Linked DNA regions of Homo sapiens: all the other regions are linked to region 3. The links come from fine-mapping of genetic effects on gene expression. A gene starts in region 3. Each other region holds a variant in brackets. All regions are shown on one strand. Distances are from middle to middle.

Region 1 (6,179 bases), 61 kb after region 3:
TCAAAATATTTTTTAAAATTAGTTATTAGTGGGAGATTTGTCATATTCTGTGTTGTGAGTGCACTGCATTCATATTATAGCATCTTGTCTTCATGTCCTATTCTTATTTAATCTATGAGTTTTCACCATGGAATCAAAATGGGCAACTGCATTCTAATTTATAAGCTTGATAGAAAACTGTAGACCGAAAAGCACATTTTAATTGTTAGAATTACGTATTTCTAGAAACCCTTGCTATAAGACAAGAATATCAAAAGTACATTTTGAATATATGTAATATACACAAATAAATGCATATGTGGTCATAGAACAACATTATTACCTGGCATCTCTGAAAATAATAAATATGAGTTTAGGATGTTAATGAAGAACACGTGGTCTTTGACATTCATTTTTGCCTGGTTTTCATGCTTTTAGGGACTTAAAAATGAAAGAATGAGATCAGGTTTTTTGTCTAAACTCAAGGTGTCTTAAGCAACAAATAATACTGCTTCATTTCTCTCATTTTGACAACTAAAGATATCAGCAACACAGTTGCATAGCTAGTTAGCAACAAATACAAAGCCACTGTTTTTACCCTTAAAGGAATCTAATGTACATATTTTATACTTCGTAAAGGCTAAATGTCAGTCCATATTTGTGAAGCAAATAAATTGGTGGTTTTAGGCTGTCACGGAGGCTCACTCCTGTAATCCCAGTACTTTGTGAGGCTGAGGCAGGAGGATTGCTTGAGCTTAGGAGTTCAAGATCAGCCTGAGCAACATAGTGAGACTTCATCTCTACCAAAAATTTAAAAATTAGCTGGGCGTAGTGGCACGTGCCTATAGTCTCAGCTACTCGGGAAGCTGAGGTGTGGGAAGATCACTAAAGCCTGAGAGTTCAAGGCTACAGTGAGCCGTGATCACGCCACTGCACTCCAGCCTGGGTGGCAGAGCAAGACCCTATCTCAAAATAAATAAATAGGCAGTTTTATGTTTATGAACCTGTACATGTATTGTTATACAACATTTTCAGCAGAAAAAAATTCGTCTGCATTTAACAGTGTCACAATATGACTCAGTTAAAACTAGTAATTTTAAAATAAAAAAACACAACAAAAATACACATGTAAAAAACTATTTCACACCAGTAAGAAAAAAAAAAAGAATTAAATGCTTTTTGACCATAAAATCTGTTGGGTAAAACTGGAACTAGGTCTGTGATATATGTATTTACCTCTCATATTATACAAAAAATTAATTTTAATTTTTAACCCACTTATCAAAAAGTTTACTCAGACTTAATAACCTGTGTGTTAAGAAATTGCTTGATTAGTGTTACAAGTACTGTACATCATAAAATATGTTGTGTGGGTGAGTAGACACCAGGTAATTACAATGAGTTGTTAAAATGTCAGTTTCAGCAGATAACTCATCATAATAAATATCAGATACCAAAGTGAGGAACAAGATGCAAATTATTGTAAGAAATATTTAAAAGCTAGTGTTGACTTTTAAACCTTTCATCCACATTGAGGGTATAAAATAATGTAGTTTTTGGAGATTAAAGAAAGATTTCTATCAGAGAGCATTTCTCTGCAGAGAATTGTGCTGTGAGTCCTGCCTCATCCAGTTGCTTCTCCCTTCATCTGAAGAGAAAAGGGGTTCAGAGAGACTTTTGAATGACAATAGGTTTTTCCTGCAGATCTTGGTGGGCTCAGTGGAGGTGGGGCTGAACAAGCAGTCATTCTGCAGACGTGAAGGAGAGATAGACGCGGAGATCTTATTGTAGAGACTCCCAGCTTTTGTTTAGATAAAGATCCATGAGTGTTTCCTGTAGACCATGTTGGGCCATGGTCTTGAAATGGTAGGAATGAGATTGATTCAGGTCCTGTTCAATAGGGAAGTCTGGAGAGAACATGGGACCTCAGTTGTCAAAAGGTGGATTCCAAATGCTAATGAGAGTATGCAGGGCTTGGCTTCATGGGTGTGCAACCTGTACAGTCGCAAAGGCCATGCATTTAGAAGGGCCCCTTGTCTGGTTAAATGCTGTGCTGTTGCCATATTGAAATGCTTAATAATTTTGAACAAAAAGCCCATGTCTTCATTTTGCAGTGGGTCCTGCAGATTATGTAGTTTGTCCTACATTTATGGCCTACATTGAAGAAACTGTAGATGAAGGGGTCCCAGCAGTGCAAAAGGGGGTGTTCCTCTAAGAAATCACCAGGCACTTCATGGGAAAAGAATAGACTTTAAATATTCTTCACACTGGGTTGGTAAAGCTAGCTGACCACCTGAACCAGTCCGGTACGACATTCCTGCTCCCTTCACCTCTCCTGTATCATCTACCTCCAGTCCTTTCCAACCCAGAGGTGACTAAAACAGCTTAGAAAGAGGAGGAGAAGGTTTTGGGAAAAGGAGAGAGGTTTTCATATATACCTCTTTGCTGAGTGGTAAATGTTAGCCTGCAGCAGATGCTAGCTGATGAAGGAAGCTGCCGTACCACCGAATGAAGATGGACATTCTAATAATCAAATAGAGGCTATTTTGGCTCAAAGTGACTGTAGGTCTTTTATTAAATTAAAACGATTAGGAAAAAACATAGAATTATCCAAGTGTTAATCCAAGGGTGGGAGAAGAACTGCTACACTGAATAAATATTAAGAAAAATGTGAAGGGCAAAATGAAATTGCTTTTGAAATTGCATCTCTCAAGTGATACTTATTCAGTGTATTGATTACATGATTGAATTTAAAGAATCTAGAAACACCGAGTGCTTTTAGCTCATAAACCTTACCTTTTAAGTTTAAAGTGGTCTTCTGAAAGCTAGCTTAAATTTAATTGTGAAACTGGACTTTTTGTAAATTTTATTTATTAATCTAAGTTGATGATAAGGAAAGAAATGTTAGATTTTTCCCATTTGTCATTAGATTTGTGTTTATCTAGTTGTTGGCTTGCTGATAGTGGCCTAAAATGGAAAAGTGTAGTTTTCCAATTCAGTTCCCTTTAAAGTATGGAACTGTATGCATTAATAATATTTCTTCAGAAGACATGTTTAATGTTTTGGACAAATAAGCTTGATTTATTATAACTTAATTTTTTTACTGGCAGTGACATAGATTTTTTTTCATTCTAGTGGCTATTCCAAAATGACCTGAATTAGGAAAATGTTGCTAGCTTTTAATACATTTCTACTGCTATTTTCCATTTTTATGCAATGACTTTGTAGGCTAATTATAGAAAATTGCATTT[G/T]GTCCTCATTGCGTGGGTGTGAAATTAACTTTGTCGCTGATGGACTGACATTTAGAGTATAATTAAGTTGCATACTTTCCTGGGATTCTGTGAACTATATTTTAATGCCCTTCAGTGAGAAAGAGATAGATGCCTTTTAAAGTTTTTTGAAGGCTGTTGTAGTTGGTCAAATTTTACAAACTACGAATATTGTTATTTATTTTTACATTAAAAATTTTAATTTTTTTAATTAAAATTTTTACATTAAAATTTTAATTTAATTAAAATTTTTACATTAAAATTTTAATTTAATTAAAATTTTTACATTAAAATTTTAATTTAATTAAAATTTTAATTTAATTAAAATTTTTACATTAAAAATTTCACAAAGAATTTTCTTCTTACCAGACATCCATGTGATTTCCTTCTGGCTATAAAAAACCTATAGGGGATTTTTTGTATGCGTGATTTAACCTGATATTATTTTAAATGTAAGTTCTATCGATATAGAGATAATTTTATTTTTGAACTTTAGCTAAAAATTATTTTAATTGTCAATATTTCTGATTTTACATTAAATTAGAAAAGACTAGGTGGGGCATGGTGGCTCCCAGCACTTTGGGAGGCCAAGGCTGGGGGATTACTTGAGCCCAGGAGTTTGAGACCAGCCTGGACAACAAAGTGAGATCCCATCTTAATTAAAAAATCAAAAAAATTAGCTGGGTGTGGTGGCATGCACCTATAGTTCCAGCTATAAGACAGGCTGAGGCAGGAGGATTGTTTGAGCCCAGGAGGTTGAGACTGCAGTGAGCTGTGATTGTGCCACTGCATTCCAGCCTGGATGACAGAGCAAGACCCTGTTGGGCGGGGTGGAGGGGTGGGGGTGTAAAAAAAGACTGCTGCTTAAATTCTGATCCTTGAGGAGTAGGGCACCATAGGAAATAACTATATTTGCATCATTTGTAATGTAAAATTCAATATTCTTGAAGAAAATTTGAAAGCAGATGGAATGGCATTCCAGGCTAGTGGAGACTGGGGGTCACATTTGCCTCTCACTCACCACTGACATCATAAGCCATTACTCACAGCAGTTGAGAATACCATTTGGAAGTATAATCACAAAACCTTCTTATAAATATCTTTCTGTATATTTTCATTTCTTTCTTCAATACATTTCTCTAATTTTGTTCCAGGCTCGCAGGAAGGAGGTATTTATCCAGGAACGGTATGGGAGATTTAATCTAAATGACCCGTTCCTGGCACTCCAGAGAGACTATGAAGCAGGTGCTGGTGACAAAGAGAAGAAGCCAGTTTGTACCAACCCCCTCTCCATCCTTGAAGCAGTCATGGCCCACTGCAAGAAAATGCAAGAAAGGATGTCCGCACAGCTGGCTGCTGCTGAGAGCAGACAAAAGAAGGTATTGAGGCGTTCAAATGGTCATTTTCCCCACAACATGGTGTCCAATGAGGAGATCACCTCCAAAGTTGTTTGTTCTTCAGTATTATATTTTCAGACAGGATTGCAATAAGTACTTAGAAGTGCAAGAGGCTGACAGATTCTTTAAGCCAATGTAACCTAGTGTTTAAAGTGTAACTCAAAATAACACTAAACCATAAAGGAAGTATAACAGAAAAATTATGTTTCTGATAATGGTTACTTTGATACTTTCTTTAAAATCTCTCTCTATATATATGTTTTTGGACTTCCTAGTGCCTTCTAGAAAACATGCTTAGCTGCTAGGTAGGTTAATCCAGTGATGCAACCAGGACTCTTTGATCATATAGTAACATCCCAACTTACTGTATCTAGCTTCTGTCTAAAATAGTTATTTGCAATTAGAAATTATTTTATTATTTCTTAATTTTGGCGGGGGGAAATGAAAATAACATGAAGAAAATGGAATGCATGTTTGCGTGGTATGTCCAGTCTCACAATGTGTCATCTTAAAGTCCTGGTTAGTGTCAGACTCACCTCTGGGGTGTGATAGCTGTGTCAGCTGCAGACCTCAAGCCTCCTGCTCACATGTGTTTCATTTAAACCAACCTCCTCCTCCTCTCCCCCTCCCCCACCATCACACACATATTCCTTTCACTTGAGTATCTGCTTCAAAGAGTACAAAGTTCAATGAAAACTTGTGGTGATAATAAGGAAATAAGTAAATAGAAATTTAAATTTTGCCCTTCTAATATGCTGCCAAGACTATCGATGCCTTTTATTAGAAAAGAGAGTGAGAAAGCTAGAAGCTCATGCTGTGTGGTTTGATTAAAATTAAAACTAATATGTTCTCTCCACCATTATTATTAAAGCATAAATTAAAATGTTTCTTTTATTTGGCCTCTTCAGAGAACTTCTGATATCTCATATGTAACACCTAGTTGATGGTTAACCTGAATGCACTATACTTATAAATATTTATGATACATATTGTCATTTCATGCGTGTCTTTTCCCTGAAATTTCATCTTTACATTAACATATAAATGTTAGTGTTCTGGTGTAGGTGCTGCATAAAAGGAAACATTTTTCTCAGTATGTTGCATGGTAGAAAACTAAAGCACTGAGTAAAAGAAAAATAGAAGGCTTTCCATAGATGTAAGGCAAAATCAGAATTTTACTCTGGACTCTACAAAGCCCTGCAGACAACCACTAAGATATGTGGAGGTTTTCAAAACTCCCCACAAACCACATACACAAGAGCCAATGAATTTCAGCTGATGTCACTGAAACTCATTTGTATTTCTTGGATGGGATACATTTCAATTATGCCTGTAATGTGTCAAATGAGTTATTTCATAATAAATTATTTCTGCTGGACTTTATATTGTGTTATAAAAAATTAAGAAAACACTTTGTTGTCATTGAATATATAAAAAACACTTTCCTAAAATTTTACTTCTGTTCTGCCTTTAACAAAACTCATTTCTCTTTTAGGAGAAAAAAAGAACACTTCTAGTTGGATCAAAGATTTTA
Region 2 (6,179 bases), 110 kb before region 3:
TTCTTTTTTTTTAATTTTTTTTATTTATTTTATTTTATTATTATTGTACTTTAAGTTTTAGGGTACATGTGCACAATGTGCAGGTTAGTTACATATGTATACATGTGCCATGCTGGTGTGCTGCACCCATTAACTTGTCATTTAGCATTAGGTATATCTCCTAATGCTATCCCTCCCCCCTCCCCGCAACCCCACAACAGTCCCCAGAGTGTGTTGTTCCCCTTCCTGTGTCCATGTGTTCTCATTGTTCAATTCCCACCTATGAGTGAGAACATGCAGTGTTTGGTTTTTTGTCCTTGCAACAGTTTACTGAGAATGATGATTTCCAGTTTCATCCATGTCCCTACGAAGGACATGAACTCATCATTTTTTATGGCTGCATAGTATTCCATGGTGTATATGTGCCACATTTTCTTAATCCAGTCTATCATTGTTGGACATTTGGGTTGGTTCCAAGTCTTTGCTCTTGTGAATAGTGCCGCAATAAACATACATGTGCATGTGTCTTTATAGCAGCATGATTTATAATCCTTTGGGTATATACCCAATAATGGGATGGCTGGGTCAAATGGTATTTCTAGTTCTAGATCCCTGAGGAATCGCCACACTGACTTCCACAATGGTTGAACTAGTTTACAGTCCCACCAACAGTGTAAAAGTGTTCCTATTTCTCCACATCCTCTCCAGCACCTGTTGTTTCCTGACATTTTAAAGATTGCCATTCTAATTGGTGTGAGATGGTATCTCATAGTGGTTTTGATTTGCATTTCTCTGATGGCCAGTGATGGTGAGCATTTTTTCATGTGTTTTTTGGCTGCATAAATGTCTTCTTTTGAGAAGTGTCTGTTCATGTCCTTCACCCACTTTTTGATGGGGTTGTTTGTTTTTTTCTTGTAAATTTATTTGATTTCATTTTCCCTATTTAATAAATGCTGCTGGGAAAACTGGCTAGCCATATGTAGAAAGCTGAAACTGGATCCCTTCCTTACACCTTATACAAAAATTAATTCAAGATGGATTAAAGACTTAAATGTTAGACCTAAAACCATAAAAACCGTAGAAGAAAACCTAGGCATTACCATTCAGGACATAGGCATGGGCAAGGACTTCATGTCTAAAACACTAAAAGCAATGGCAACAAAAGCCAAAATTGACAAATGAGATCTAATTAAACTGAAGAGCTTCTGCACAGCAAAAGAAACTACCATCAGAGTGAACAGGCAACCTACAAAATGGGAGAAAATTTTCGCAACCTACTCATCTGACAAAGCGCTAATATCCAGAATCTGATTCTTCTTTCTCTACTATTTTCTTGTTCCTCTTTTATTTCCTCCACCTGGATATCCCTTCCTTCATTCTTCACCTAACTCTTTCTTGTCCTTGAAGGCAACTCAGGCATCACCTCTTCCAAGAAGCCTTCCTGGATAGTCTGAGCTACGTGATCCTCCTCTGTGCTCTCGGCATACCCCTACCATAGTATTTATCACACTTGCTTAGAAGTGATATTAAGTCCAATGCTAATTCTCATAACTAATCATAGTAATTGTGCGGGAAGAAATGTGTAAACTTGATTTCCCAAGCAAAACAAAATATTAACTATTTTTTGTAAGCAATGTTTCCATGGAAACAAACATCAATATGGCAGGAGGGATTAATTGTCATTATATTTGAAATAATTCAATGTCCTGGTGTTTCTCTCCCATTTATTCCTCTAAAACAGATTCAAGATTCACTTAGAAATCTACTCTTTATATGATGATTGATAAAATTATTACTTGAGCTTGATGGAACTGGAAATGTGCTGCCCATGGATAAAATATCTTTCATTTTCTGCCGTGACTCCTAGACACAATTGCTCCATGCTTTAGAATGAAATTTAAGAAAAAATAATTCTAATGCTAATATTAAGGGTTCTAATTAGATATTACTTCAATCCTCTCTGCTTAGAACAGAATATAGTAGGTCGCAAAAAGGATGTTTTAGTTTTTGTTCCTATTTTCTAATACGAATTGATCTGATTCACGCCAATAAATCCTCCTGACATTTTATAGTCATGGCACTAAATCACTAAAGCATCATGTCAAATGAAAAAGCTGCTGAATGTAATGGTATTAAATGATGATTTTTAGGTCTTGTCACCAACTTTAAAATGTGTTATTGATAAGGCATTGGATTTATATGTTAATGGCTATATTTCACCAGTCCTGCCTAATATGTCTCTGCTGCAGTCTATAGCAAAAAATGTTATTAAACCTCCAGGGTCGCTTTGACTGAGAGAAGTTTTGAAATAAATCAATAAAAATGAGCACGGCCTATTTTCTGAGCATGGCACATCATACTCAGAACAGCATGGCTGTTTGACAGAATGGGCACGGTGTTTGCTTGTTTTTAATCCAGTAATATCCCTTAATTTTTGCAAACTGTGGAAAGCAGTGTGACCGACCCTAGGAAATATATTCAGTTTTTTCATGCACAGAATGAGGCATGCATGAAGGGCTAAAAGGAAGAAAAATGCATCTTGAAGAGTCAGTTGTCCTCCTTTTTGAAAAACGAGGCTTTTTTCTTTTTTTATTTTAACATCAAACCGAGAGTTCTCTAAGGAGTTTTATATAACAGCAGTGCCAATCAGTCAGATGTGGCTGTTACTGGACATAATTGTTTTATATTATTATGATTTAATTTGTAAACCTCAAAAAGTTTAAAGTTTAAGGAAGTGAATGAGTAACAGCTATATTGCATCACGTTAGCTCTGAAGGACTTCTAAAGAACATAAAGTAGTTCTTCATAAAGTTACTCATTGCTGGTACCTAAAGATGGCATGAGATAATTGACCTCCCATTACAGTGTCCTACCTTTTCTCCCATCCCTAAGCCTGGCCCACTTGCCCTAATCAGCCGCCGTGCACATTCTGCTCTGTACCTCTGCTTCGGGAGAGAACAGCTTGACCTGAGCTGTGACACGGCTTCCTCAGCCTCCTGGTAATTATTTTGATGTTTAAATGCTGTGTAAAGTCAAACAGGAAGGGTTTTATGATGTTTTGCTGGGAGGATTTAGTGCAACTGCAGTGCGCTTTGCAGATTAGCCTGGGACTGTCTGTGTGGTTCTCTGCCTAAG[G/A]AAGGAAGAATCTAAGTACACAGACAGATCTTTTAAATGCAATTTCCAGAAACTTCTAGTGATACACTGGTAAACACTTTGTAACATTTGTTTATTCAGCCGGTGGGAAATCCTGCTAGAAACCCACACTCTGATTGTCATAGAGAAACATTACATTTGATATCAGGAATAAGCTCTTCCCACAGGAGCGGAATTTCTTAGATGCAGGGTCAGCATATTCTCACAAATAGCAGCTTGATCAAACCCATTATTCTTAGTCCTCATAACATGAAAATATGCTTAATTGTTGATTGAGAGTTTAATTGATGTGCCCTATTTCAATTTCACACATACAGAGACTTTTATATCAAAAGTTGTTTATCCAAGTGTCACATTTCCCGATGTTACAACATAGACATTATTTTAAAATGAGGGAAACCAGTTTAACAAAAGCATCCACACCATTTGAGATATAATTTGGGAAGGCTGCTTTGCTGGAGAGCTCTAGTGTGGGTAGAAGCAGGACCCCAGTCAACACAAGGCAGGAGCTTCTCTGATGATCCACATGAACCTGGCAGGGTTCACAGTGGCGATGGCCAGTCCAGAAAGGGAGCTGTGCAGCCTAGGGAAGGACAGTGAGCCTTGAGCTGGGGGCCCCGAGTCAAGGCTGTACTTATAAAGCTGTAAGGAAGGTTATTTCAGGAGCAAGTGAGACTCTGTTATTTTGAAACAGGGAGAGCACCTTCAGACTGAAAAGACCAGGCCTGAAACATTGATTCCTACTCCCCAACAGCATAGCCGCAACCCCTTCACCCAGAACCCTTTGCCCCACTGGCAGAAGCGGGGGCTTCCAGAAGAAATGGCAGAATACACCTTACTGGATGTCCTCCATTTGGAGTTCCACAGTCCTCAAGGTCCAGATTTAAGTAAAAGAACTTTAGTTCAGGCAGAGAGCACAATGTGAGTAAAGTGCTGGTGGCAGTTAACATACGAAATGCGGGAGGGTCCCAGGAACTGGGGCAGATGGAGATGGCTGGAATGTTGGGCACCGGGGTGGAGCGGGGGTGAGGGGATGGTGCAAGAAGAGCCTAGGGTGGAAGATAAGGATGGACTGTCTATCTAGTGTTGCCAGATAAAATAGAGGGTGCCCAGTTAACTTTGAATTTCAGATAGACATTACTTTTTTAGCATAAGTATGTCCTAAATATTTCACAGGACATACTTATACATTTAAAAATCCAATGTTTAAAATTCAAATTAGCTAGATATCCTGTATTTTTTATTTGCCAACCTGGCAACCCTACACACATGCCATACCAAGAGCATGGACCTCTCTGCATGTGGAGAGTGCATTGGTAGGTTTTAAACAATGCAACCTCTTGATCAAATCTGAGCACTCTGTCAGCAGCAAGGAGTGGAAGAGTGAAGGTAAATCAGAGAGTCTGAGACTAATATTAGTGTGGAGGATCTTGAGGAAATTTTTTTAAAAGTGAAAGAATTCATCAAAAAGAAATAAACCAAAAAATATGCCATTGTAGATCAGAGTAGTTATCTATTCAGTCCAATATTCTGTCTCCCAGTAGTGACAAGTAACGCTTTGTAAAAAAGAATGACATGGTCAGAAAAACATCAGTCTCAAGTCTGGAGACCTGGCTTTCAGCCCTTTTGGGCCATTTGAACTCATACAAATCAAACATAAGTCATCGAAGGAGCTGAGCATCCTCAGTATACACAGGCTTCTATATACAAGTTTCTATTTTATTCTCACATATTAGGGACATTTTTCCCAAAATCCCCTAACACATTAAGAAGGTTTTCTAGTCTCAAAGCACGAAAGAGATAAGGTTAAAAGAAAGCGATTTATTCCCACCCTCAGAATCCTCTCTTCGTCTTCCGCATCAAATCTCTTCCTAACTCATTCAGGACTCTGCACTAGGCTGCTGTTTCTACTTCTCTTCCCTCTCTGCTTCACAACTGACCTGCTCTTGTGTCCTCCTGCCTGGTAAATCCATTTGCTCTTTATTTTCTGGAACTTTAAGCCTCTGTGTGTGCTTTTTGCCTACCTAGAAATATCATTTTACCCCACCTTCCCCACTAAAGCTGCTTGGTCTCTTTCTTCTGCTTAAAGCTCACTTCTTTCATGAAGTGGTTCTTAGTCAGTCTCACCTGTTTGTAGTATCGGTCCATTCACGTGACTCATCTCAGGTTATAATGTGCTTATACAAAATTTAAGCCTAAATTCCTCTATGTGACTGCCTTTTCTTCTAGGGTTATTAGTCATATCATTCTGTACCTTCATCCCTTGAAAACCAAATGGTCCACCCCTCCCTCTCTACCAGGTAGGGTGTGTGAGCTCCTTCATGTTTCTGTTCCCATAATATGTATTACAGAGCTATAGAAGGTAGGCGTCAAATAGATTTTGCTGATCTCCTAATAGTAATGGTTCATTTATTAAGTCAAAAGTGTGCCCTGGCTTGAATAAGTTAAACAAAGCCTAACGTAGTCCAAAAAGCCATTTTTCTTTGAGATTGGCTTACAAGAAGATGAGATGACTCATTAACAAAATGAGCAAGAGAAGCTTGGCCCAAAGATGAAATGGCCATGACAATAGCTTAAAATGTATGAAAAATACAATGCCAAGAGTTTTTATTGCAGAGTAATGAAAACATCTGGTGTAAAATTTTAATGTGTGGTCATACTCTTAAGAGAGAGCGATATCAGAAACATTAAACAGTAGATGAAAAAATGGAAAATTTTTGAGGTAATTTTAATTTCAAATTCAATAGATTAAACAAGCAAATGATGGCATTTTTAAAAAATGGTACATAGTTTATTTTTCCTCTATTCCTAAAAGCGTACGGCATTATCTGGGTTTTTCTGAATAGGTAGGATGTGTCTGTTATGATCCAGCCATGAAGCAGAAACCATTTTGAATATCAAAAACAGATGAAATGAAATCTAGGGAACTTGTTCCACAGGGAATAAGACCTAGAAGGACCAGCAAGGCAACCCAGGAAGCAACTTTCAGGAAGCCACTCTCTTCTCTAAAGGGACAGAGGGAAGCCATAGTGTTACCAAAGCCCCAT
Region 3 (6,179 bases):
AGCCATCAAGTCAATACCCTTTCACATCTATTTGCTTTGACTGTAATAGAGCCTGCCTTTGTGCAAAGAAAGTCTTAGAAAGAGTTAATTTGCAATAGTAGCAGAGACTAATTCTCAAGAGAGAATTGAAACCAGCAAGTGTCCTCCTGGTGGAGAAGCAGCCCCAGGCCAGGCTACTAGTGAGGAAGTTAACTCCTAGTGTGCCACTTCTGTGCAGTAGGTGAGATCCTCAGCCAACCTTCAACAGTGCTGGTTTTAAGGTGGAAACAGAATGCTGTCAATTCTCCTTCCCAGGTACTGGATTTTGGTGGTTAGAGAATGTGGTGTCCTGTGATTTTTATCACTGTTTTATTTATTTTTTTTCCATTTCACAAAAACAAACAAAAAATGATGGGTGGGGGTTTGCGGTGGGGGGGGGGGGTGGGCAAGGACTGATTTCCTTGTAACATGATCCTGCTTTAATTGTATTTAGGTGAATACAAGCTAATTTTTTCCCAGTGATTTTTTTTTAAAAATTGGGCTGCATGTATAAAAGGGATTTGCTTCCCAGAGATGGTGTCATTTCATATTTCTAACTCTTAACCCTGAGTAAAACTTATTATTATTATTTTTTCCAGAAGTTTGCCAGTTAATTGCTTGAGAAGTATTCAACATCAGAATCAAGAAAATTGATTGCCTTGCAATGTGTGGAAGTGCATTTTGAAAAGAACAAGGAATGCCCTTGGACTTTAAATTTTTACTATCAGTTTGACATCTAACTTTTACTGTCCAGTGGTTTTCTTTAATCTTAAAGAAATCTAGTTATTCTAATATTGAGCAGTTTTAGAGAGTATACTTAATAAAGGAAAGTGGTATAATGAACAGGGATGGATATTAAAGGGATAAGTGAGGGAGTAACTATCAGAGCCAATATAAATAAATAAATAAATAAATAAATAAGTACCTGTACTCACAGGATAACCTGGAGATGATTTCTAAGCCTCTGACTTTTAGCCCCAGAGTTCTAGGTAAAGTTCTTTCTTGACCTCTCTTCTGGGAGGGAACTTTTCACAGTTTATTAATCAATCCCTTTCAGGGTCTTTGCAGAAAAGATTTTCTCTGCCCTGGTTTGTGTCATATTTGGGTCTAATTTGGAAAGTGGAGCAATTAAAGAGTCAAAACCTTTCATTAGGAGCCTGCCATTAAAAAAAGAAGAAAGAAAGAAAGAAAGAAAAAAGGAAAAAAAAAAAAAAAGCTTTGATCTGTAACCCTTGGACTGAACATTCTAGTCATTCATCTTCCAAAATTTCAAGTGCAAGATTTGGTTGTGGTTTGATTTTACGTCTTTGAGACACAGCTTGAATGTCTCAATTTGATTTTATGCATTCGACACATTTTTAGGGATCTGGTGATTTGGGAAGGGCTGTACCATATGGTCTTGGTGAGGTGATAGATTTTCACATTCTGGAAATTGGCAGCAAAGGGTAGGAACTGAATTAGATGTGGAAAGGGAAGATTAAGCGTTTGGGCCTAATTCACTCATCTCATGAAAAATCTTCTGAGACGTGTAATTCCCATAAAATCTATTTTTACAAATACGGCTTTTGTTTGATTGTTTTTGGTGTATATGTACACGTGTCCTCACACGTAGGGAGTAATTTTTTTAAATTCTCTCAAAAGTAGAGGACATGACATTTAGCTTTTAAAGCTATGACATTTAACACTTCTCAGTTAGTCCTTCAGGAGAGATCTCAGACTTAGGGGGGTCACAGAATATAAAACAGCCCGCTACACATTCCCTGAAAAGGAGATTGTATAGAAAGTTAGGAGCTGAGGGGCTGGTGCCACGTTCTAAAAGAAAACAGGACAGACAAATCGTTTTCATCTGAGAATTGTTTTTGGAGAAACACTAGAGTCAACGATAGAATAAATCAGAGCCAGGTGTGTATATATATAGGGAGGATAAAAACACCCTGGCGGCAATGAAATTTAAGAAAGAGCAATTTAAGAAGAAAGGGGTGCCCTGTGTGATTCCTCGCGGTGGGATAGAGGGAGCTGAAGTGTAGGATTTTCCCTGATCTTTCAGAGAATTCAGATTCAGGAGGCCTGACATTTAATCTGGTCTGTGCACGGATTTCTCCGGCTTGGTTGGGGTTCTGCGGAATGCAACGCTCCTCGGGCGCTTTCTGCCTTCACCTCTTCCGTGGTCTTTGATCCCCAGTCCCCGCGCAGGGCCGCAGCGGAGCCAGGTCGTGCGCCCATTTCTCGCACCTCCACGAGCCCGCGGCTGGCGCCACCGGGCGCGGGACGCGGGGCGCGGGGCGGGACCGAGGCGGGGCGCTCCGGCGCGCAGCGGGTTAAGCGGCGAGGGCGGTGGCGAGGGGCGGAGGGAGTGCCGCGGCTCCCGGCTCCCGGCTCCAGGCGCCCGCGTCCCGGACAGCAGCGGGTTAAGTGCCGCCCGCGCGGAGACGGCTGAGTCCGGAGCCGCGGCTCCGAGCTCGCATTCGGATCCGCTAGAGCAGGAAGATGGCGACGGACGGCGCGAGCTGCGAGCCCGACTTGTCCCGGGCCCCGGAGGACGCGGCGGGGGCCGCGGCGGAGGCGGCGGTAACCGAGTTCCCGGGGCGGGCGCGGGGCTAGTGTAGACGCGGGCCGGGGGCGGCGCCGGGGTCCCAGCCGGACCCGACTTCGCACCCCCGGGGCGTTCCGTAAGCCCGGGACTCTCCGGTGCCCCTTCATCGGGGCCCCCCTTCCTCGGGATGCCCACACGGCGGAGGCCGCGGGGGGGAGCGGAGCGGCCACCCTGGCTGGGGATCCCTCCTGTCCCTTCCGCGCCCCACGGGAAGCGGCCCCGGGTCGCCCGGTTCTCCCAGCTCCCTGTCTGCGTCCAGTGCGACCCCTATGCCCACTCCCTCCGCTGCGGTCGCTTCTGGCCGGGGGAGAAGGCTGGGACGTGTTTCCTGGCGAATTTGACCCCCCATTGTTCACCTCTCGCTGCGCGCGTGGTTGCCAGCGCGTGTCTCGGGGGTGCCTGGTACCGCTCAGCGGACCCGGGAGAGCAGCTTGGGGGAGGTGGGCCATCGCCCAGCAGGTGTGGGGATGCCCATTGTGTGCATCTGGTCCTGTGCCTTCGGGAGGCCCACTGGGAGAGGGCCGTGTCCAGATGTGGGCGCTGCTGCCGCTGAGGCCAGCGCTTTAGGTCCTAGCAGCCTGCTGCCCCATTACTTGGTGGTAGTGATTGGGGTGGGGTGGATGGATTGGTTCTTCCCGAGACGATGCTCAGGAGAGGTGGAGGTTCTGCACCTGGTTTCAAGACATTGTTCTCCTTCTCTGGAGTCTAGAGGCCGAATGCGCTACCATTCTTGACTGGTCCTTACTTTCACCCCCTTAATATTCCGGTGTAGAGACTCGCTGGTGGTTTCCAGCCTCTACTTTGGGGAAGGGCTGGACCCACATTTCCTGGGTGGAAAAGGTTCTCGGTGTTTGGGAAGCAGCTTCGCAGGAGCTGCAAGGAGCTGCAGAGAAAGGCAGATCTGGGAGCGCCTCCCACTCTTGGCCAGATCTGGCTGCTCCCGCCGAAGGATGGGGTGGGATGGAGCGAGCGGGGCGTGGACGCCCCCCTCTTCCTATCAAGACCTGAGCAGAATCAGTGCAGGAGAGGGCAGGGCCGGGCGTAAACAGCGGGGGCCGCTTTAACTTCCTCCCACCCTCTGGAGGTAGGGCTTTCTGGAGAGGGAGAGGAGAGATGTGGAGGAAGGTACTTGGGGTGAGAGGAGCTGAGCCTGGCAATGGAAGGAGAAACGGGGAGGAGGACTGCTAATTTCCACTTGTAAAACTGGCAAGTTTTGATTTGAACTTTTGGGAAAATTGAGTTTCCATTCTTTGCATAGAAAATGAGAACTTTAAGATTTCAAACGAAACCTGCCCACTTATGTGAATCAGCTCCCCTCTGTGGGGCACAGTAAGGAAACTAGCTATTGAGACAAGGCTCTCTGGCAAGTGGAAATGATTTGGTGCCTTCATCCCCAAAAGGTGGGAAGGGGAAGGACGAGGAAAAAGAAAGAGGGTGTGTGTGTGTGTGTGTGTGTGTGTGTGTGAAGGGGAAGGACGAAAAAGAAAGAGGGTGTGTGTGTGTGTGTGTGTGTGTGGTGTGTTTCTTGTTCCCCAGAAAGGTTGAATTTGTTTACTTAATCCACTCAGAATGGGTTTCTGTTACCCTCAATATTTTAATCACCTGACAATTAACCCAAACACAAACATCTGACTGATGGTCTGTAGAGCTGATATATAGTTTTGTTTGGTTAGATCGTAAACAAAACCCAGGACGCCAGGCAGATTTCTGTGTTAACAAGGTCAGTGTTCCCTCTCTTCTGTTTAAAATGTTCAAGTCTGATTTTCACTGCTGATAGTTGGGGATTTGATAATTTCACCCTTGTTAATGGGCAGAGCCATGGAAAATCTGCGAAAGTGAACCTTCTTTGCTATTTCCATAGAATCCTTTAGGGTTGCGAGATGCAATAAGGATTCTTCATCTAGTAGTTTAAAAACCAGTAATAATTTCTGAATTTTTAGTAAAATTTTGATGATGGCTTTTGTAGTAAATTGGGCCTTTTATTTTAGTTCTCCAAATAGTTTTGACTTAATAAGGCATGGTTCTCTCATATCAGCCGCTTGACCTATAGACTGATTTTTAAGTGAAAGGAAAGCTAGTGTAGAGGAGTGATATGTGTCATCACAATTGCTCCTTAAAAATCAGAGGCGTTTTATGCATTTTGGGTTCTTGTTGACTGATATTTTTTATTTTAGTGAACAATTCACTTTGCATTTTGGAGATTTGTTGACTTTCAAATTGGTTTACATATCGTGCATTTTTATGTATACATTTGGCAGTAAGGAGTCAATGGAAGCTCTAAAGCAGTAGGCTATTTTTGAAAGTGAGTGTTTTCACTAAGCTTTGACTATTTAGATTGTTGCTTAGAAACAAGCTTAATTTATAGTTTTCAGTTTAATATCATTTTTAGTGGAATGTTTTAAATTTAGTTTGTGATCCTCATTCTTAGCTGTTTAAATCCTGAAAGCATCCCAAGTTTAAGGCTGGGTAACAGCTACATTATTCAATAGGATCATATTAATAGTCTTTGCCGTGAACCGTGCCGGGAAACCTGGGCTATTTTCAGTGCCTTAGCCAAATGTGATGACTTTTATAGGCCATATTGCTGTTTCCACTCTGAAAATAACTCCTAATGGATAAGGCAGTATGGAAAACGAAATCTTCATGCTTTTTATTGTCACCAAAGAATTTTGGAATGAAAGGAAAATGGAGATCTTTTTAGAGCTATATTTGGGAAGCCAACCAACATTCTTGTCATTCTGAGCTTTTCTGGAGCAGCTAATAGACAAGAAGTAGGTATAAAATTTGTTGTCATGGTGGCAGTGACAAAGAAAAACTTGGACAATGATTTAAAATGCACGACAGTGATGTTAAACAAATTAACAGCTGAACTTGAAATTTTTGTTTTCCAGGTGACAGTATTGAATGTAAATGCACTGAAAAGAACTTTCGTAGCCAATTGCGCTAAGCGTTTTTTTAAACTAAATTATAGTTACGTGGCAGCTATAGAATGTTGAAAGTGTTGCAGCTTAATTTTTAAATAGGAAATAACGTAGATTTAACACACATTACTGAACACTTACTGAGATACAGGCATCATGAGTATGATCTTTGCTACCCTAAAGTAATACATTCCAGTGATAGAAACTGACATACGCCAAGGAATCAAATTGGGGATGATGGTGTCATGAGAGGCAAAAATGATTTTGCATTAGAAGTTTGGAGAGGAACAGTCATAGAGAGGGTCCCTAGTGGATGGATCTAGAAACTTCCATAGAAGGATGACATTTGAAGTAGTCCTTGAGACTGAAGGAGGATTTGGACCGGCACTGCAAGAAGGAGTGTGCAAATGTGGTCATATCCTAGGGAGCCATATGCGAAGGGTTTTCAGTGATGAGCATAGAGGTTCCCATTCTGGTCTCAGCTATATGGTTCAGAAAAATAGCTTGGAAGTTGAGGAAATTGACTGGAATATTTTTCCAAAGATGAGAATATAACTGTTTTCAGTGTCCTGCTTTTCACTCTTTTTTTTTTCTTCTTAAATAATAGGTTGTAGATTTCTGTTTGCCCCAGTTTTTGAACTTTATTA

Direction of the effects. Alleles are on the strand shown, and positions count from the first base shown. SD is a standard deviation of normalised expression in the study named.
As copies of T replace G in region 1, the expression in thyroid of the gene that starts at base 2,480 in region 3 goes up (small effect, 0.34 SD a copy in GTEx).
With allele G in place of A in region 2, the expression in tibial nerve of the gene that starts at base 2,480 in region 3 is higher (small effect, 0.30 SD a copy in GTEx).

Evidence for each region. PIP is the estimated chance that this variant, and not a neighbour inherited with it, causes the effect.
Region 1: its variant is the best candidate, but not a certain one, in a credible set for the expression of CTTNBP2 in thyroid (GTEx, PIP 0.87).
Region 2: its variant is the best candidate, but not a certain one, in a credible set for the expression of CTTNBP2 in tibial nerve (GTEx, PIP 0.55).

Annotation. Positions count from the first base shown.
Region 1 is chr7:117,809,213-117,815,391 of GRCh38, reverse strand. It overlaps CTTNBP2 (cortactin binding protein 2), which reads left to right. Exons shown (of 23, transcript NM_033427.3): 3 at 4,403-4,627. Among named protein-coding and RNA genes, the nearest start is that of CTTNBP2, 61 kb to the left of the region's middle. RefSeq lists enhancers at 3,983-4,729, 4,730-5,478. The variant G/T (reference allele first, on the strand shown) is at 3,231.
Region 2 is chr7:117,979,412-117,985,590 of GRCh38, reverse strand. No RefSeq gene overlaps it. Among named protein-coding and RNA genes, the nearest start is that of CTTNBP2, 110 kb to the right of the region's middle. The variant G/A (reference allele first, on the strand shown) is at 3,115.
Region 3 is chr7:117,869,742-117,875,920 of GRCh38, reverse strand. It overlaps CTTNBP2 (cortactin binding protein 2), which reads left to right and starts at 2,480. Exons shown (of 23, transcript NM_033427.3): 1 at 2,480-2,586. The coding sequence starts at 2,506.